2 linked regions of the Homo sapiens genome follow. The gene in region 1 interacts genetically with each later gene. Each region holds a gene or a part of one and is shown on either strand. Other genes may lie near its edges.

What was found.
Region 2: changes in PTK7 (region 1) and NPR1 together harm fitness more than expected from each alone (negative genetic interaction), as found in Homo sapiens cells (one study listed by BioGRID).

What each region holds. Positions count from the first base shown.
Region 1 is NC_000006.12:43,069,569-43,080,240, forward strand, and holds the start of PTK7 (inactive tyrosine-protein kinase 7 isoform a precursor), read left to right. Parts: upstream 1-6,745; 5' UTR 6,746-6,920; coding exon 6,921-6,999; intron 7,000-7,245; exon of another isoform or gene 7,246-7,315; coding exon of another isoform or gene 7,316-7,418; intron 7,419-10,672. Other genes in the region: KLC4 (kinesin light chain 4), read left to right, coding at 786-887, 1,124-1,297, 1,707-1,806, 1,999-2,051, 2,284-2,354, 2,579-2,687, 3,256-3,396, 3,655-3,770 and 2 more. UniProt on the Homo sapiens protein: Inactive tyrosine kinase involved in Wnt signaling pathway. Component of both the non-canonical (also known as the Wnt/planar cell polarity signaling) and the canonical Wnt signaling pathway.
Region 2 is NC_000001.11:153,673,092-153,683,574, reverse strand, and holds the start of NPR1 (atrial natriuretic peptide receptor 1 precursor), read right to left. Parts: upstream 4,888-10,483; 5' UTR 4,467-4,887; coding exon 3,746-4,466; intron 3,075-3,745; coding exon 2,875-3,074; intron 2,396-2,874; coding exon 2,282-2,395; intron 1,872-2,281; coding exon 1,736-1,871; intron 1,078-1,735; coding exon 986-1,077; intron 200-985; coding exon 64-199; intron 1-63. UniProt on the Homo sapiens protein: Receptor for the atrial natriuretic peptide NPPA/ANP and the brain natriuretic peptide NPPB/BNP which are potent vasoactive hormones playing a key role in cardiovascular homeostasis.

The sequences.
Region 1 (10,672 bases):
GATAGAGTTTCACTCTTGTTGCCAGGCTAGAGTGCAACATGGCACGATCTTGGCTCACTACAACCTCCACCTCCCGGGTTCAAGCAATTCTCCTGCCTCAGCCTCCCGAGTAGCTGGGATTACAGACATGCCACTACGCCTGGCTAATTTTGTACTTTTAGTAGAGACGGGGTTTCTCCATGTTGGTCAGGCTGGTCTCGAACTCCTGACCTCAGGTGATCCGCCCACCTCGGCCTCCCAAAGTGCTGGGATTACAGGCGTGAGCCACTGCGTCCAGCCAAAAAGCTATTTTTGAATGTGATCTGTGTGAAAATAATTCCCTATGGTATGACATATGATAGGCAGGGATGATGTATCTCAGAAATCATACTCCTGTCTTGATATCCCATCAAATATCAATGTTTACATTTAGCGTTTGGATGTCTGGCAGGACATTAAAAAATTGGCAGAGCTGTCCCACACATGCAGAACATCTATAGCGTTCTTGCCTCCTCAAAGGTAATCTTCATGGTGACAACAACAACAACAAAAAAAAAAAAAAAAGAAAGAAAAAAAACACCTCCAGAAATTTCTTAAAATCCCCTAGAGGGCGATACTGTCCCTTAGCCTCAGAGCCATCCTGTTCAGCAATTTCCCCTCCCTTCAGCCCCTGGCTCCAGGGTAGTAGACTTTGTCTCTTAGAGTTGTGCAGTGAGTGTTGGGCCCTGCTGGGAGGTGGGGAACCTCAGATTCCCATAGGTCTTTTGCAACCCAAATGTCTGATGGGGACAGGCCTGTCTTCATAGGTGGCTGCCACACTCAACAATTTGGCTGTGCTCTATGGCAAAAGGGGCAAGTACAAGGAGGCAGAGCCTCTGTGCCAGCGGGCACTGGAGATTCGAGAAAAGGTACCCATGCCCTCTCTCCCTTCTTCTCTTGTCGCTGTGACCCTTCTCTACATGGCTCCTCTGGTCTAACCCTCCTCCTTCACTTTTTTTTTCTCACCCCCATCTCTGCTTTGTTCTCTCTTCCTTCATTCCCTTTCCTCTGCTTTCCACATGTGTGTGCCTACATGCAAACACACGTGTGCTTGTGCACACACATGTTATCATAGCCATTTATCCACTCCTTTGTTCCCTTTCAGGTCCTGGGCACGAATCATCCAGATGTGGCAAAACAGCTGAACAACCTGGCCCTCTTGTGCCAAAACCAGGGCAAGTATGAGGCCGTGGAACGCTACTACCAGCGAGCACTGGCCATCTACGAGGGGCAGCTGGGGCCGGACAACCCTAATGTAGCCCGGACCAAGAACAACCTGGTATGGGAGGAGGGACAAAGTAGGTGGAAGAAACGGAGAGGGGGGCACAGAGGTGGGGGGAGGGGGGGCAGGCGGAGAGGCCACTTGGGTCCTAGAGTCAGGAAGCATCACAGTCTGGCACACTGCTCTCATCAACTTTGTGCTCATGTCTGGGGCTGCCTTTGCGGATGAAGGATCTGCTTCATTCCAGTTATAGAAGTTCCACAGCTTCTTGGGAGTGGGCTGGGAATACCCTTGACCCTACACCTGGAGAAGGAGGTGTGAGAAAGATCTCTGGGGAAAGTGAGAGAGACACTGAGAAGTGGAACTCCCTGAGCCTGGTGAAGACCTTGTCTAAAAAAAAAAAAAAAAAAAAGACCTTGCCTCCCTCCATGTTTTGTTCCTGTATTTTTGCCTTTCTGTCCTCCAGGCTTCCTGTTACCTGAAACAGGGCAAATATGCTGAGGCTGAGACACTATACAAAGAGATCCTGACCCGTGCCCATGTACAGGAGTTTGGGTCTGTGGATGGTGAGTGGTGAGGGCCTGGGGAAGGGGCTGTGGGGAAGAAAAGAAATTCAGACCAAAGGTCGGGGGTTAGGCCACAGCGGTTCCCAGGGGGAGCCAGACCCCTTCAGTCCAGCCTGTCAGCCTCTGGGTCCTGGCTCTCCGACACTGTCTAGCTCCCATCTCTAACCTCCCCACCCCATGTATCACCCCTAGATGACCACAAGCCCATCTGGATGCATGCAGAGGAGCGGGAGGAAATGAGCAAAGTGAGTGGGGGGAAGGGGGGCCAGCCTGGGGAGCTCAAGGCTACCGGGGTCTCTGTCTTACTCCTTGCATTAGCCCAACTCTCACTTCCCATCCCAGCACCAGCCCCAGATGCATGGTGTCCTCCCCAGCCCAGCCTGCACCCTAGCCCCATGCCACCTTGCATCTCAGCATCTCTGTATTCTTATATTTGGCTCTCCCTGCCCTTCTTTCTGGCCTCTCTCTGTCCTGCAGAGCCGGCACCATGAGGGTGGGACACCCTATGCTGAGTATGGAGGCTGGTACAAGGCCTGCAAAGTGAGCAGGTGAGCTGACAGTGAAAAGCCAGCTTGGCCTCCGATGCCCTCCATCCAGTCCCTGCTCCCAGCCTCCCAGACCTTTTCCCTTCCTCCCGTAGACTTTCCCTCAGCTTTAGCTCTGTTCCCTCTCCTATTTTCTTATTTTTTTTCCTCTTGTCTTGCTTGGAAGACAAATGTTTTGTTTTCTGAACTCATTCTCTCTTCCTTCTCTGGTCTCTTTCTCACCACAGCCCCACAGTGAACACTACTCTGAGAAACCTGGGAGCTCTGTATAGGCGCCAGGGAAAGCTGGAGGCTGCTGAGACCCTGGAGGAATGTGCCCTGCGGTCCCGGAGACAGGTCAGAAGCCCAGAGGGGAAGGAGGTCCTAGAGGGAAGGGCCCTGGGGATGAGAGAGTGCCGAGGTTTCTTGGGAGTCTCCTAAGAATAAGCGGAAAGGCTGATGAAGCCAGGAGGGAGAGGAAAGTGAGGCAGTGTTGTGATTGTGGTTGTTTTTAAGCATGTTCTTACCCCCCACCTGCATTTTGTGGTCAGGACTCTAGTTTCAAGATTCACTAAATGGGGATATGAAGGAGAAACCCTGCCCTTTCATAAGGAGGGGACCTGGGTGGTATGGGTGAGAGGAGTGAGGTTGGGGAGAGCCTAAATCAAGAATTTCTTAGATTGTGGGTCTCAATAGTAGGTTGTGAAATCAATTCAGTATGGGCCATGGGGATAAAAATATATACAGATCTATATATAGCAATGCATTGCAAATAGAAAAGGTAAGTATTATTCCAGTAGGTATAAACTGAGACATCACAAGGAAAAATGTTTTCCTTCCAGTGGCTGATGGTGAAAAAAATTTGAAAGCCCCATCCTGAGGAGTTAAGGAGTAGGAAGTCCCAGGTCCTTCCTTTTCCTTCCAGGGCACTGACCCTATCAGCCAGACGAAGGTGGCAGAGCTGCTTGGGGAGAGTGATGGTAGAAGGACCTCCCAGGAGGGCCCTGGAGACAGTGTGAAATTCGAGGGAGGTGAAGATGCTTCTGTGGCTGTGGAGTGGTCCGGGGTAAGTCTGATCATTGCCTTTTCATCTCTCCTGCCCACTCCTGCTGGTGGTGGTGAGAGGCTCTTGGCCATGCTGTCCCAGTCTAGGTAGTGTATTCCTTCAGGGGTATCTCTGGGAGCCAGTTTTTGACAGGACTTTTATTTCCAGTCACTGGGCCTTGGGGGTGGGGGATGTGTGCAGAATAAATGCTAGGAGTAGACTCAGAAACCCATCTGTGTGGGATCCTTGTAGCTTTCATTGCTCACTCCTTTCTGCCAGGATGGCAGTGGGACCCTGCAGAGGAGTGGCTCTCTTGGCAAGATCCGGGATGTGCTCCGCAGAAGCAGTGAACTCTTGGTGAGGAAGCTCCAGGGGACTGAGCCTCGGCCCTCCAGGTATACATGGAAGTCAAGATACAGTAAAGTGGCCGGGTGCAGTGGCTCACGCCTGTAATCCCAGCACTTTGGGAGGCCGAGGCGGGTGGATCACCTGAGGTCAGGAGTTTGAGACCAGCCTGGCCAACAAGGTGAAACTCTCTCCTAAAAATACAAAAATTAGTCGGGTGTGGTGGCAGGTGCCTGTAATCTCAGCTACTTGGGAGGCTGAGGCAGGAGAATTGCTGGAACCCAGGAGGCAGAGGTTGCAGGGAGCCAAGATCATGCCATTGCACTCCAGCCCAGGCGACAACAGCGAGACTCCGTCTCAAAAAAAAAAAGAAAAAAAAAAAAGATATGGTAAAGCAGGCAAGTAAAGTAAGCCCTTGCCTCCAACTCCTCTTGGCTCCTGATCTCTGGAGAAGTATCTCGGAGAGAAACAGGGAGGAAGTCAACGGGCCAGCCATGGAGAGAGAGTTTGGGTAGAATGGGTGCCCCAGTGTGGCAGTGCTCAAGAGGCCCACAGCCTTAAGGCCACTCAGGAGGAAGAGAGGAGGCCTCAATTCTTCCGTTTTCCATTGTAGCAGCAACATGAAGCGAGCAGCCTCCTTGAACTATCTGAACCAACCTAGTGCAGCACCCCTCCAGGTGAGAGCAGTGCTTGTGAGCATATTGGTGGGTGAGGAAAAAAGGACAGCCAGTGAGCAAGCCCAGTGGAGTAAGGGAAGAGGGAAGGGAGAGGAGTCATCTGGGATGAAGATGAGCCAGGGGATTGCAGTCATTAAGGAATCAGGCAGATAGCTTGTGGTGAGTGCTGACCACCAAGGGACAGTTTCAGGCCAGACATAGTAGCAAATAAGTTAATAAGGAGGGAAATAGGAATATTCTGTAAACTGGTACTTTGGAATTATGAATAATTTAAGAATTATTTGGAGATACGAATTATTTTTTCATCCTGCAGCCGCCTTAGTAGTAGATGAGAATGGAAAAAGAAAAGTATTAAATAATCCCCATCTGAGAAAACACTAGTGATATTTTAATGGCAAATGACTTCTTGTATCAACACACAAGTATATGCCAGTATTCATGTGGTTCTTCCAGGTAGCTTCTCCACCAGATTGTGGCCTTCTGGAAAACCCTAGCAGAGGCTAAACAAAGTCCCAGGTCCAGAGATAGACTGGTCCAGAGACAGATGTGATCCTAGGTCCAGAGATACACTGTGACCATGGGATGGATGGACTCTAGGAGCCAGTCTTTGGGAGGCCGAGGTCCCTGAGCTGATGGGGTAGTGTTGTCTGTTTCAGGTCTCCCGGGGCCTCAGTGCCAGCACCATGGACCTCTCTTCAAGCAGCTGACATTCAACCCGGCCCCCAGGTCTGCTGGGTCCCCCCACCCCCACAGCCCTCACAGCATTCCCCATTGCTCCTGGCTCTTCCCCACCCCTAGGTGGGACAGTGAAGGGGAGCAGTTTAACCAGAAGATTGCTGCTGCCCTTAGGGTCTCAGCTCCCTCCTCAGGAATCCCTCTTAGGAAGGACCCTCAGGACACCCTCTCTGCACCCTGTGGTCCTCTAGAGTAGCTAGCTCTGAGGCCCCAAGGTGGGTACAAAGCAGGTATGGCCCTCAGAGATGCAGCCTGCTGCTGGCTTTTCAGTCAGAGGGTTGGGGGCTGGCCAGCCAAGCTGCCTTGCCCTGGCCGCTCTTACTCCCTCCCTCTGCTGTCTCACTTCAGGTCCATGTATTTCACTTTTCTTAAATAAAAGAATCAGGTAACCTTTCTGTGACTTGAGTCCTGATTGAAGAGGGTATGAAGCAGGGCTTGTGTTGGGGCCCTTCACAGAAGGTGAGGGGCAGTGATGGATGGAGCAGCAGGAGGAGTGTTGATTCTTGGATCTCTCCTCTCTTCCTCCCGTTGTTTGTATCATCTCCAGCAGGGCCTGTAGGAAGGCATCTGGGGGATGGGGAAGAAGGAGGCTCACAACCCAAGGAGAAGGTGCTGTGGACTGGGTTGTCAGGGACATGTGGTGGCCATGTGGCAGGACCCTGGAGTCCTGGCGCCACTTCTCCTGGCTGTGAGGCCCTCTGTGGCTGCCATTCCTCCTCCCAGCTGCTTGGGGGAAGGGAGGTCTAAACAGGCCTGGGGGGCCCTCCGGAACCAGAGGGGAGACAAGGCACTATCCATCCCCTCTCAGCATATCTTGGAGGCCTGAGCAGCAGCTGGGGCCCATCTTCTAAAGCTTGACTCCTCCTGACCCGCCTCCTACACCCCTTGCTGCTTTCACAACAAAGAAAGAATGTGGGGGTGGTGGCGCTGGGGGTGGGGGTGCCTGGAACAAGGGTTGTGCTGGGCCTCCCCACAGCTGGAGACTTGGCCATACCCTGACACAGCCCAGACTGCCTGGAGATGGACTTGGGATGAATTTGTCAGTTAGCAGACTTCAGCCTGGCTTTCAGAGCCCAGCGTGTTTCTACCTTTGGGTTCAGATTGGTCTACAGCCAAACCAGACCCCAGTCATGCACACTTCAGCCCCTCTCCGGGCTACACAGCATCTTCAGGTTACTTGGGGACATTAAGGACACCCTGCTGTTCTGGGTCTGCCGTTAAGATTTTGGGTTGCTGAAGAGTTGGCGGGGCCCGCCTCTTCCCCTGCCCCCACCTGGAGAATTCTGGGGGAACTGTTGGCCAGAGCCTCCAGGTATGCCCAGAATGGACCATTCTCCCCAGGGTCCACGGAATCGCACAAGTCACTTAGGTTCTCCCGGATCCCTGCAGAGTCGGTGGTGGGTACAGCAAATACTCAGGTCCCCTGCACTTCCCTGAGCCTTGCTCTCTCTATTCTCCATCCCTCTCCAGACCCCTCCCCCTACTGAGCTCCTCCCCGCCTCGGCGAGGAGGGGGCGTCGAGGGGGCGGGGCGCCGTGCGGGGGCCGGAGGGGAGGGGGCGTCGTGGGGCGGGGCTTGGCGGCGGCGGCGGCGGCGCGCGGGGACTCGGAGGTACTGGGCGCGCGCGGCTCCGGCTCGGGACGCCTCGGGACGCCTCGGGGTCGGGCTCCGGCTGCGGCTGCTGCTGCGGCGCCCGCGCTCCGGTGCGCTCCGCCTCCTGTGCCCGCCGCGGAGCGCAGTCTGCGCGCCCGCCGTGCGCCCTCAGCTCCTTTTCCTGAGCCCGCCGCGATGGGAGCTGCGCGGGGATCCCCGGCCAGACCCCGCCGGTTGCCTCTGCTCAGCGTCCTGCTGCTGCCGCTGCTGGGCGGTGAGTACCCGAGAGTTGGGGGCACAGAGCTTGGGAAGCGCGGGAGTCCCGTGGGCAAAAGGCTGCGCCCGGGGCGGTGGGTTTGGGCGGCTGGAACGGCCCTGGAGTAGTGGAGAGGCTCGCTGGGGGTGCAGGCTTGCGGCGGAAGGGCGCAAGGAGCCCGGGTGTCGGGAGGCTGGCGAAGCCTCCAGGGACGCGGTCAGGGTACCCCTCCCACTCGCGCCGCGGGGACGCATTTCCAGCCTCCCTGAGTTTTTCTGGTCTGAGCCGAGAGTTTGCTCGAGAACTGCCGAGAGTTGCTGGCTCTCGGGCCCAGATGGGGAGTTTCTTGTCGGGGGAGAAAAGACCATCCGCACCCACCGTGGGGAGCGCGATGGAGAAAAAGGAATTCCCCACCCCACCCGGCAGGGTCGGCCCAGGTAAGAGTTGCTGGTTTGGGGCCCGATGCCGGACAGACCTGCGGCGCGCAAAGCGCGGAGCTTTGTTACCTACGCCGACCCGACGTTCCCGGCTTCCCTCCTCCGAGTTCCTGGGCAAAGCTGAGACCCCAGATGGCCCTGCGGGTGAGGGCGGAAGAAGGGAAGAGTTAGGGGCCGCCCCCATCCATGGCCTCTAGCTACTGGTCTGGAACCCTGCGCCCACTCCGTGCCAGGGCCGAATCCGGGGATCCGAGGGTCCCAGGCTGTCGCGGTGACTAATGTGTGAAGGCCGCTGCCAAAATCGGGCATGGCCTGGCTGCAAAGGTGCGGACGGGGTTTGTTCTGCTCCTTCCTGGATTTCCATCCTGACTGTCCTCACAGAGGAAAGGAAGTATTTCTAAGGGAAGAAAGGCAAAAAGAGCTCATTCTGGCTTTTCTTGGGGGGGGGCCTTAGCATTTTAACGAGGGTGTGGCCCTCATCACCAGGGCAGACAGCACCGCCCCCCCAACTCCCGCAGCTTTTATTTCCTGGCTTGGTCACACCTAAGAGTCATCACTGAGGTGTTGAAGTGCCTTACAGGAAAGCACCAAGCCACCCGCACATCCCAAATAGCCCGGACTGGAAATAAAGCCCCCGACCCTCCACAACACTCCTTGGTGGTCCTCGAAGCAGCTTTCTCTTGGGGAGCTCTGTCGAGGAGACCTGTCCTAGGTGATCACCTTCCATCTCCTTTGAAGGTGGCAATGGGAAGGGCATGGGTAAGGAATTGCCTTTCTAATATCTTTCTGGCCTGCCAGCTGTGGAGGGGTTTTGGTGCTGGTGGAATCAACATCTCCCCTGCCCCCAGTTGTAAAAGGAGAGGTAAATGTAACCCAGGAAAGAGACCAATCTCCAGGGATTTGGAGGAGGTGTTTCTGGAGTTGCCCCGTTTTTCTTGTGATGTGTGTGGTGGTTATTGCTCGTGGCAGAATCCACATCTGCTCCCAGAGGAAGTATGGAAGTTTTTTTGCACAGCCAGGATGGGGGCCCAGCCATCTGGGCGAGCAGCCCAAGCTCACAGGCCCCCTGGCTGTCCTGGTTGGGTTTTGGTGTGTGGGTCTGCCCAATGAGGCTGCCTTCACTGCTGCTGTTCAGGGTACTAGAGTCAAGGGGAGTTTCTGGTGAAGATGGGGCTCTTGCTCAACAAATGCTGAATTCCTAAATTCCTTCCATGAGAAGATGACTCTGATGTTAATTGACTTAATCTGGTGACTGGTTGGTGTTTAGTGTGTGTGCGCGCGTGTGTGTGGGGGATCCTGTTGGGGGAAGTTAGGGCAGGCTGAGGGCTTAGGACAGGAGGTCTGTAGTCTCCTCAGGGGTGGGGGGATGTCTTGTGCTCAACAAAGGAACATTTTAATGAGAGCCTTAAATCAATTCCACCAAATGTGCCTTGTTGTGGAACCTGTCCATGTGCTGTAAACAATTTCAGTGGAGGCCGAGGCGCCTGCTGTCTTCTAGTGAAATCCTGGGACTCAACCCACCCCCAGACGCATGACTTCAGGGGCAACGGTTTTTTAATAGATCACAGTAGATGTTTGCATCTCATTGTTTAATTGTGTAATTAACTGGAGTTGTAGTGAGATCCCACTGTTAATAAGGCTGGAGTAAGGAACCTAGGCTGGCTAGGTTTGTGGATTAGACCATTTTAAAGTCTGGGTAATTATGCCATAAATGGCAGAGTTACTTTCCAAACTTTGAGATGCTGTTGTAATAAATATGGTGGAGGAGGAGGAGGCTTGATGTTTGAAACTATGGATTCTTAACCCCAACCTCTTGTACAGTCAGCTGTGGTCACTTCTCATTCCAATTCCCATCCCCCTCCCTGGTTTCTTTCCTCCGGGCTCTTGTTTCTTTGGGGAAATTGAGTCGTCATGTTCTGGGATAGGCTGTCTGCAGATTCCTCAAGGCTCTGCAGCCTGTAATTCAGGCCTAGGAGTTGCTTTTATTAGTGATGGCTTTTCTCAGCTGTTGGGAAGTATGGTGGCAGGGCAAGGGTGCTCTTCTTGTCACTTGTCAAATGATATACTCAAACTCCTGGTGTTCAGAGCAGCATTGAGTGGTGGACAGAGCTCAAGCAATGGAGATAAAGTATGGTCCTTCCTTGGCATCTGCAGGGAATTGGAATAGGACTCCCTGAGAATAACAAAATCCAAGGGTGCGGCCAGGCCTGGTGGCTCACGCCTGTAATCCCAGCACTTTGGGAGGCCGAGGCGGGCGGATCATGAGGTCAGGAGATTGAGACCATCCTGGCTAACACGGTGAAACCCTGTCTCTACTAAAAATACAAAAAATTAGCCAGGCGTGGTGGCGGGTGCCCGTAGTCCCAGCTACTCGGGAGGCTGAGACAGGAGAATGGCCTGAACCCGGGAGGTGGAGCTTGCAGTGATCGTGCCACTGCACTCCAGCTTGGGCGAGATCGTGCCGAGATCGTGCCACTGCACTCCAGCTTGGGTGACAGAGCGAGACTCCGTCTCAAAAAAAAAAAAAAATCCAAGGGTGCTCAAGTCTCTTATATAAAATGGTGTCGTATTTACATATAACGTACACACAACTTCCCTGTATACTTTTGTTTTGTTTTGTTATGAGACAGGGTCTCCTCTATCACCCAGGCTAGAGTGCAGTGGCACAATCTTGGCTCACTGAAGCCTCAAATTCCTGGGCTCAAGCAGTCTTCCTGCCTCAGTGCTCTAAAGTATGAGGATTACAGGCATGATCCACTATGCCCAGCTTCTCCTGTATACTTTAAATCATCTCTAAGGGCCAGGTTTACGCCTGTTATCCCACCACTTTGGGAGGCAGAGGGAGGAGGATCGCTTGAGCCCAGGGGCTCAAGACCAGCCTTGGCAACACAATGAGACCTCCACCTGTACAAAAAAAAAAAAAAAATTGCCAGGCATGGTGGCACGTGCCTGTGGTCCCAGCTGCCCAGGAGACTGAGGTGGGAGTATTGCCTGAGCCCAGCAGGTTGAGGCTACAGTAAGCCATGATTGTGTCACTGCACTTCGGTCTGGGTGACAGAGTTCAAAAAAAAAAAAAAAAAAAAGGGCAGGATGCAGTGGCTCACGCCTGTAATCCCAGCACTTTGGGAGGCTGAGGTGGGCGGATCATGAGGTTAGGAGAGCGAGACCATCCTGGCTAACATGGTGAAACCCCATCTCTACTAAAAATACAAAAAATTAGCCAGGCGTGGTGGCAGGCGCCTGTAGTCCCAGCT
Region 2 (10,483 bases), on another chromosome or scaffold:
CTGTGCTTAGGGGAAGGATGCAGCATCTCTGGGATGGAGGCCTGGAAGGCAAGGGGCAGTCACCTTGGTTGCATGCTGGGTCTTCGTTGTCAAAGCCACATTTGGGGATGTCAGGAGGAGGGTACCCCAGGGGCCAGTTCAGTTTGCGCCCCGACACAGCCACCAGCTCTTGGGAAGTCCCATTGTAGTTCAGTACAACCTAAGGGAGAGCAGGAGTGGTGGCTAGGCCAGGGCCTGCGGGGAAGGCATGCTGTGAGTGCAGCAGTCTCACCTCCCACCTACCCCAGCTCTGCTTCTAGAGCCTACATATATATCTGGGTTGTCACCTGCTTACCAAGTCCCCACTGCAACTGGACACAGGACCTCATACCACACACATAGTACTCAAGTGGAAACACCTGAAAACTATCAAGGGGTTTATAAAGAAAACTCCATTTAGAACCCGATCTCTACACTCAGGGAGTTTATAATCTTGGTTGAAGTACCAACCAAGCATTGATTTTTCTCTACTTATTTTCTTGGTAGAAAACAGGAGAAGGTAATGTTCACCTTAGCCTACATTCGCAGGCCCAGTCCATGTGCCCGTCTTCCAGGAGGCCTTCTCTGGATGACCTGTCCCTTGTGGCCATTGGCCTCAGCGCCTTCCTGTCCCTGCTCGCTTGCAGAGCTGTGTAATGTGCATCTTTCACAGCCCTGTCTCTGCTGGGAGGCGGTCCTGCCTGCCTCCCTTCGGAGCTCCCCGAGGGCAGGCTTGTGCTCCCTCCTCAGGCATGGGGCTCCCCAAGTGTGATGCCTGTGAGTCCCTATCATTCTGGTGGCTTCCCCAGACTGGAGCTGGGTCTGTTTTATCCAGGGCTCTTGTAAGTGTCCAGGCATGGTGGAATGGCTACAGGATAAACAGGTGCCCTGGCAGGGCTGTGGGGGGGAAGTAGGAGGGTGAGATGTCATTTGGAATTGGCACTGTCTTCTGGGTGCACAAACTTACCCTGAAGGCACCATTCTCGGGATCCATATCCCAGAGGGAGAAGTCTGTTTCCCGATCGCCACTGCTATCAATTTTCAGGTATCCTGTCACACCTGAGGACATGGGGGAAGATGACTATGTTTGAGAGAATAGAAGTTCAGGGGTGCCCCACTTCATCTCTTCATCCTCTAATCTTTTTTGCCTTGCCTTCCAAACATACATGTATACAGAATGATAGTAAATGGTAAAACGGCCGGGCACTGTGGCTCATGCTTGTAATCCCAGCACTTTGGGAGGCTGAGGCGGGCAGATCACCTGACGTCAGGAGTTCAAGACCAGCCTGACCAACGTGGTGAAACCCTGTCTCTACTAAAAAAAATACAAAAAATTAGCCAAGTGTTGGTGGAGGGCACCTGTAATCCCAGCTACTCAGGAGGCTGAGGCAGGAGAATTGCTTGAACCTGGGAGGCGGAGGTTGAAGTGAGCCGAGATTGCACCACCACACTCCAGTCTTGGGGACAGAGCGAGACTCCATCTCAAAAAAAAAAGAAAAAAGAAAAAGAAAGGTAAAAGAACTCAGTGCCCAGCAGGGATGATTGAGATTGGACACTTTGTAGGACTTCTGAGGGATGGGCCTGAAAAAAGCTGTGGAGGAAAAGGCTGGTGTGCATAGGTAACTGCTGCAGGACAATAGGCTTCTCATGGCTTGACACTGGGCACCTGGGATTCATCCCCCAAGGCAGCCCATTCCAGCCACCTCCAGGCCCTGACCTTGAAAGCTTCGGTTCCACATCCGCTGAGTGATGTTCTCCCCATCAGTAACAGTTCCCCCATGTGCCAGAGTCTCCGTCACTGCCTGGATATAGAGCAGGAGCCCGTCGTGGAAGGATGCTGGGATGGTGTTCACCTGTAGGGGCAAACAGAGGTCGGCTGGGGTGGGCATATGAAGGGCATGGAGGTGGGAGCTGTGGGGAAGGGAACAAGAGGCACTGGGATTTTGGAAGAGGATGGGAGAAAATAACACCCCTATATCACAGGGAGATTTTACTATTTAAACGATGCCTTTGGATTAGCATCACTTCCTGAATCCTACTAGGTAGACAGGGCAGGATGTATCGTCTCCATATTACTGATGATGACCTGAGTTTCAGAGGCTGAACTTGCCAGTGTCCTCCTCCATCATCACGAGAAACATGGAACAATGGGAAGGGAGGGAAGGAAGGGGAGAACTGGGAATAGGGAAGGATGGAGGCTGGCAGAGGGTCATGGAGTGGGGGCTGGAGGTCCACGCTGGAGGGTCCCGGGACCCCTTCTTACCAGGCCATCCTCCATGGTGAAGTTGAACTGCTCATAGGCCAGGTGTTTTAACTGCTTCAGGAATTCCAAGTACTCGGGATTATCTGGGTCTTTATATGTAATGATTTTGGCAGCCTGAGAAAGGGGTCAGTGGAGAGCAGAGAGTTGGGAGCTGACTATTCCCTAGTACTGTGGGGCCCCAACAGTTGGGAGCCCACCTCCCAGAGCTGCGTCTCTGCTTAGCTCAAGGTCAAACTGGACCCTATGCCCTGCATGAAGTGATGCCCATTCCAAAGCAGGGGATCCAATGGGATGCCTTCTCCAAGTCCTGTCCAGGCTGTGGGACTTTATCCTCCTCCCGCCTCAAGCCCATTTTCTTATCTTTTTAGCCTGCTGGTGGCGAAGCGCCCCTGGGCAGTCCCCTGCCCTTCATTGCCTAATTCCCAGTGAGCATCACCAACCTCTTTTCTGTTCTGTGAGTTACCAGGAGTGCATAAAGAAACAAACAGACAAAAACCTCTTTTCTGGAATTCTTTCAGACGCTGAGGGACACAGTGCCCAGAAATGATGTGCCACAAGCTGAGACAGCCTGGGCTTCAAACCTAGGTACTCACCTGAAAGGCCTGGCGGGCACTGACATCCTGCCCATCCCCTCTCTCCCAGGGCCTGCGGGGAGCAGGGCCCTGTCCACCTTGCAGGCTTTGCCCAAAGATATCCAGGTGGAAGAAAACGTAGTCCTCCCCACACAAGCCAGCTTCCAGGGCCAGGAGCATGAGGGTTCTGAAGGCATCAGGGGAGCTGCAGATGTAGATAACTGGAGAAAGACGGAGAGTCAGAGAGAGAAGCCTAGGTACTGCGGGAGAGACAGGAGTAGGAAAGCTGGGGCACCCAAGGGAGGAAGTTTAGAGATAGGGTGCAGGAGAGACCCAGTGAGAGTTAAGTGGTAACTCCCGGCTCAGCCTAGGCCACAGCAGGAGAAAGTCGAAGGGTGGAACGGGCGGGTGCGGGGCGGTGGGCGGGAGGAGGAAGGGGGAGGCGGAAGGGAGGAAGGAACGGGTAGGGAGAGGGGGATAGTGGAGCTGAAGGTGGAGAAGGATGGGGCCAGGAGGGAGAGAGGAGGGAGAGGGAGGGGGAGAAGAGAGGGGATGAGGCGCAATGAGAGGAGAGGATGAAAGAAGGGAGAAGGCTATAGGGAAGAGAGAAAATGTGGGAGGGAAAAAGGGACCGGAACCGAGCTGTGCTAGGGTGGGAGGGAATGAGTGGGGGTCGGGGAGATGAGAGGATAGAGACGTGGTGGGGGTGGCGGAAGAAGAGAGGGAAATAGAAACTCAGCTGTAGAAAGGGCCAGGGAGCTGAAAGTAGAATGAAGAACGGCGAGGAGAAAGAAGAGTGCCCCCAGATGAGAGAGAAAGTCCCGATGCCTCCGGCAGGTCAGAGGGGAGGCCCTGCGGCTAAGCGGCGGGACGGGGTGTGCCAGCGTCTCACCTCGGCCTTTGCGCGGCATGGTCCGCAGCAGCCTGGTGTAGTGGCTGAGGTCGTCCTCGGCGAACTCCAGGTGGTCCACCGTAATATTGAGGCGGTCGCGGACCCGCATGAACAGCCCCTCCACGAGGAAGAAGCAGTGCTCTTCGTCACCCGGCCGGTAGGCGTAGAGCATGAGCGCTTGGCGCTCCCAGCCCAGCCGTCGGTGCAGCGCCGCCACGAAGTCCCCCAGCTTGGCGTAGCTGGGCCCCGCGCGGGTGGTCAGCGCATACTCGTCCTTGACACCGAAGCCCAGCGCCGGGGCGCCGGCGGTCAGCAGCGGGACCCGCCAGTGCGCGGTGAAGCGCCCCACTGGGGCGGCGGCGTACACGCAGCCGGGGCCCAGGAACACAGCGGGGTTGTGCTCCCACTTGAGGTCCACCGCGGCCAGGGGCGCTGCGGTGTCGGAGCAGACGCCCAGCGCGTTTTCGCTGCTGCCCAGCACCGTGCGGACCGTCCAGCCCGGCAGCAAGTCGGGGCGCGCCTTCACCTGGGCCAGGGCCAGCTCCACGGCGGGTCCCACGCGCGCCCACGACCAGGGGTACGAGGTATTGGCCAGCGGCAGTACCACGGCTACCGTCAGGTTGCCCGCGTGGCTGCCCCGGAGCAGCAGCAGCAGCGGCGGCAGCAGCAGGAGCAGGAGCAGGCGCAGGCGGGAGCCAGCGGGGCGCCGGGGCCCCGGCATGGCCTCAGCGGGCACCGCAGCAGGCGAGCGCTCCTACCATGGCCTCCTCGGTCCCCTTGGGCTCAGCGGCCGGTCCCAGGCATCAGGCGCGTCCCTATGGGAAGGAGCAGGAGCGGGACGGGGACGCTCACCCCGGGGCTCGAGGCCCCCTGTAGCTGCGACGGTCTGGGCCGAGAGCGCAAGGGGCGCGACCGAGGGGGGCGCGCAGGGCGCCGCGGAGCAGGTGGGTGCCAGGAGAACGTCGGGCTGGAGAGGACCCGAGTGTGAACAACTGGGAGTGTGCGTGCGTGTTAGAGAGAGAGAGAGAGAGAGAGAAAGGGTGCGAGTGAGCGCTTCGTGAAGAAGGATGAGAGAGGGCGCGCGAGGGAGGAAAGAGGAGTGTGTGTTTGTAGCGTGCGTGAGCGCCTGCCCCAGGGAGTGTGCCAGAAGGGGCGTCCGGCCGGCCCAAGTCTCCGGCTATCCGGAGGGAACCGTGGAGGACCCGAGCCAAGCTCCGAACCCTCCCTCCCAGCCGCTTCCCCTCCCAGACTCAGTGACAGAAGAGCCAATCCAGGATCTTTAACTCCTTCCTCCCCGCCGCCCAGCCCGCGCGCTTCCCCGTGGACCATCTTCCCCGGTCTCGGCCGCCCCACGCCTACCTCTTTGGAGGACAGGACCCTCTGAAGGTGCGCCCTCGCCGGGATGGAAAGGACGGCTGAACGGAGGGTGTGTGTGGAAGCAACCGGGGCCCACTTGCGCCCCACCTTTTCCCTCGCCTCCTACCTGGTCTCCTCGGGGGAAGAGGGAAAGGTGTGCTGGTTTGGGATCCTGGCAGGAAACTGAGTGAGTGCGTGGATGTGTGTGTTTGGGTGTGGGGTGGAAGGTGACGGGTTTCTGGAAAGTCCGTTAAAGTTGAAGGTGAGCCCAGAGTGCTTGTTACCCATTCCTTCTATGATCTCCCTCTCTTTCCCTCCCTGCCACCTTCCAGACTGTGCAGATTAGCTGTGAAAAAATGATCTGGTGTCAGAGAGGAATTAAATCTTTAGCGCCCAAATTGTAGGAAGATGGGGAGAGTGGGTGGGTGTCTGGGAGGGAGGAGGTTCACACCTCAGGGACGCCCCAAGAAAATGACTGTTTTGTGTTGAGGGTTGTTAAAATGAAGGCTGTGGGAGATGACCACTGGAGGCGTAAATTGGGGAGTGGGTTTTGGAGCACTTGACAGCTGGGCCCCCGGTGCAGACTGCTGTGGAATCAGTGTGCCCTCTAATGGTCATCGGGGGTTATTGACGGCATTGCAGCGCCAACCTCTCCAACGCTGCGCCTAAGCAGGACATAAGATCACCAAACTTCAGGTCAGCAAACATTTCCAGAGAACCTTCGGTGCATTAAGCACCCACTAGGTGCCGAGGGCATAAAGATGAATATATATAGTCCGTGCCTTTGAGGAGCTCCATTTGGGACAAATAACCGTAATGCAACATGCATTAAGCACTACAGGGGAGACATGGATAAATTGCTAAAGGACTCAGATGAGGGCTATTCATTCTGCTTGGATTGGGGCCAGAAAATCTCCAAAAAAGAAATAATTCAAGAGGATGGAAGGATGAGAAAGGTATTCTGTGTAGACAGAGCAGAATGTTGAAGTACATTTCCTATATATGGAATTTTAGGAGACTTGAATATTCTTATTATCTAGAGCAAATTGTGGTCGATAGGCCAACTTGAGATGGCAGGCATGCTTTGGCTTGCATTCTCTTTATGTATATTGTATTTAATTCCCCACACTTAAATATCATAAGATGGGGCCGGGCAAGGTGGCTCAAGCCTCTAATCCCAGCACTTTGGGAGGTCAGGGTGGGTGGATCATGAGGTCAGGAGTTCAAGATCAGCCTGGCCAAGATGGTGAAACCCCGTCTCTACTAAAAATACAAAAATTAGCCAGACATGGTGGCGGCCGCCTGTAATCCCAGCTACTTGGGAGGCTGAGGTAGAGAATTGCTTGAATCCGGGAGACAGAGGTTGCAACGAGCCGAGATTGCGCCACTGCACTCCAGCCTGGGCAACAGAGCAAGACTCCGTCTCAAAAAAAAAAAAAAAAAAAAGATGGTACATGAATATTTGGATTTCTGACTTTTTTTTTTTTTTCCTTCAAAGATGGAGGTCTCCCTATGTTGCCCAGGCTGGTCTTGAACTCCTAGGCTCAAGCGATCCTCTTGCATTGGCCTCCCAAAATTCCTGGATAACATGTGTGAGCCACCAGGCCCAACCTGGATTTCTGACTTTCCTTAAAATATTGGAAGAGCTGGCAATATATTGTCCTGCATCCCTCCATGAGCAATTAACCAGAGCAAGTATCCATTATCTCCTTGAAATGAGTCTAGTTCATTATGGTTCCTAGGCACCCTGCTTCACTCAGGTGCATTACCTGCCTGGCTGTAGTAGGAGTTTGTGTTTTCAGCCCTGATCTAGGATGTAAGGTGTGTGCATGTAGGATGACTGAGGAAGAGAGGCAGGGAAGAGGGCAGTGGAGGGAAGATTATGAAAGCTTTTGTGTGACAGGCATAATGTTCTTGTCCTGTAATGGAGATGGCGGATTCCAGAGATTGTAGAGGTAGACAGCAGATGCAGATGGGGAGATGTTTTGTAAGTAGAATCAGTTGAACTTTGGGAAGTGAGGACATTATACAAATAACAGATCTAGGTGATGTTGATCCCATTAGCTGAGAAGCTGAAGAAGGTTTTGGAAGGATGATACTTTTAGTTTATTGGATGTGAGGTGCCTATAGATAATCAAGTGGAAGTGTCTGATAGGCCTCGGACTAGTGGAGCTGGAGCTCAGAAGAAATGACTGGACTAGAAATATAGTTTAGTAATTGAGCTCCTTTCAATAATGGTGAACTAGCCCTAAAGCTACAGACAACTAAAAGTGTTGGATGAAATACTTTTTTAAAAATCAAAGAACTGGCTGGGCATGGTGTCTCATACCTGTAGTCCCAGCACTTTGGGAGGCGGAAGTGGGCTGATCACTTGAGGCCAGGAGTTCAAGACCAGTCTGGCCTTCATGATGAAACCCCGTCTCTACTAAAAATACAAAAATTAGCTGGGTGTAGGCCAGGTGCGGTGGCTCATGCCTGTAATCCTAGCACTTTGGGAGGCCGAGGCGGGTGGATCACCTTAGGTTGAGAATTCGAGACTAGCTTGACCAACACGGAGAAACCCTGTCTCTACTAAAAATACAAAAATTAGCCGGACATGGTGGCGCATGCCTGTAATCCCAGCTACTCAGGAGGCTGAGGCAGGAGAATCGCTTGAACCTGGGAGGCAGAGGTTGCGGTGAGCCAAGATCATGCCATTGCACTCCAGCCTGGGCAACAAGAGTGAAACTCTGTCTCAAAGAAAAAAAAAAAATTGGCCGGGCTTGGTGGTGCATGCCTGTAATCCCAGGTACTAGGGAGGCTGAGGCACAAGAATCACTTGAACCCAGGAGGCAGAGGTTTCAGTGAGCCAAGATTGCGCACCTGCATTCCAGCCTGGACAGCAGAGCAAGACCCTGTTTCAAAAAACAATAAATAAATAAAAATAAAAATAAAAGAACTGGGCCGGGCGCAGTGGCTCAAGCCTGTAATCCCAGCATTTTGGGAGGCCGAGATGGGCGGATCACAAGGTCAGGAGATTGAGACCATCCTGGCTAACATGGTGAAACCCTGTCTCTACTAAAAATACAAAAAATTAGCTGGGCACAGTGGCGGGCGCCTGTAGCCCCAGCTATTCAGGAGGCTGAGGCAGGAGAATGGCTCGAACCTGGGAGGCGGAGCTTGCAGTGAGCCGAGATCGCGCCACTGCACTCCAGCCTGGGTGACAGAGCAAGACTCCGTCTCTTCAAAAAAAAAAAAAAATTAGCCAAGCGTGGTGGCAGGTGCCTGTAATCCCAGCTACTCGGGAGGCTGAGGCAGAATTGCTTGAACCCAGGGGGTTGAGGTTGCAGTGAGCCGAGATCCCACCACTGCACTCCAGCCTGGGCAGCAAGAGTGAAACTCTGTCTCAAAAAAAAAAAAAAAAAAATAGCCGGGCTTGGTGGTGCACACCTGTAATCCCAGCTACTCGGGAGGCTGAGGCACAAGAATCACTTGAACCCAGAAGCAGAGATTGCAGTGAGCCGAGATCACACCACTGCACTCCAGCCTGGGCAACAGAGCAAGACCCTGTCTCAAAAAAAACAATAAATAAATAAATAAATAAATAATAATAAAAGAACTAATAAGATAGTGAGGCCAGGCACAGTGGCTTACGCCTATAGTCCTAGCACGTTGGGAGGCCAAGGCAGGTGGATCACCTAAGGTCAGGAGTTCGAGACCAGCCTGGCCAACGTGGCAAAACCCCGTCTCTACTAAAAATACAAAAATTAGCCGGGCGTGGTGGCAGGTGCCTGTAATCCCAGCTACTTGGGAGGCGGAGGCAGAATTGCTTGAACACAGGAGGCGGAGGTTGCAATGAGCTGAGATCGTACCATTTCACTCCATTTCGAGCAAAACTTCATCTCAAAAAATAATAATAATTAAAAAAATAAGATAGTGAGAAATTATTGGTGTGACAGCATGAAAGTACAGGAAAGTAGAGAAGTAAGCCCAGCAGTAGGGCTGATTTTACCCTGGGGTCATTTGCTGATTTGGAATTAGTGGCAGAAAATAGGTTGTGTGGGGCCGGTGAAGTCCAGGCCGGGTGTGGTGGCTCACACCTGTAATCCCAGCACTTTAGGAGGCCAAGGCGGGAGGATGGCTTGAGCTTAGGAGTTTCAGACCAGCCTGGGCAACAGAGCGAGACCCCATTTCAATTTTTTTAAATTAAAAAAAAGAAAAAGGGCCAGGCACGGTCGCTCATGCCTGTAACCCCAGCACTTTGGGAGGCTGAGATGGATGGATCATGAGATCAGGAGTTCAAGTCCAGCCTGCACAAGATGGTGAGACCCCCCATCTCTACTAAAAATACAAACATTAGCCAGGCGTGGTGGTGCATGCCTGTAAGCCCAGCTACTCGGGAGGCTGAGGCAGGAGAATCACTTGAACCCAGGAGGCAGAGGTTGTAGTGAGCCGAGATTGCGCCACTGCACTCCAGCCTGGGCAATAGGGGGAAACTCACTCTCAAAAAAAAAAAAAAAAAAAGGAGTCCAAATGTCCCCAAAGGTGATAACCTTGGTAAACCACCTTCGTGTTTTGGGCTAGGATCTCAAAAGGCTGCACTCCTAGGGGCAACCTGGGAGTAGAATAAATAGAAAATCTAAGGTCCTGCTTGGTGCCTCACATCTGTAATCCCAGAACTTTGGGAGGCTGAGGTGAGGATCACTAGAGCCCAGGAGTTGGAGACCAGCTTAGGCAACATAGTGAGACCTTATCTCTACCAAAAATTAAAAAATTAGTTGGGTGTGGTGACATATGCCTATAGTCCGAGCTACTCTGGAGGTTGACACAGGAGGATCGCTTGAGCCCAAGAGGTTGAGGCTTCAGTGAGCTGTGTTTATGCCACTGAACTCCAGCCTGGGCAACAGGAGTGAGACCCTGTCTCAAAAATAATAATAATACAGACCCAAAATATTAAAAGACCAAAATTAAGAACCAAATGATAGATTTAATACTATGTTAGACTAAACTGAGGAGCAAGTAATAAATTGGAAGAAAGGACAGCAGAAACTACCTAAAATGAAGAATGGATAAAAAGGAATGAAAAGCATAAAAAGAGAGGGTAAAAGGCCTTTGCAGTGGCTCATGCCTGTAATCCCAGCACTTTGGGAGGCCGAGGTGGGTGGATCACCTGAGGTTGGGAGTTCGAAACTAGCTTGAGCAACATGGAGAAACCCTGTCTCTACTAAAAATACAAAATTATCCAGGCATGGTGGTGCATGCCTGTAATCCCAGCTACTCGGGAGGCTGAGGCAGGAGAATCACTTGGACCTGGGAGGCAGAGTTTGTGAGCCAAGATCACGCATTGCACTCCAGCCTGGGCAACAAGAGCGAAACTCTGTCTCAAAAAAAACAAAAACAAAA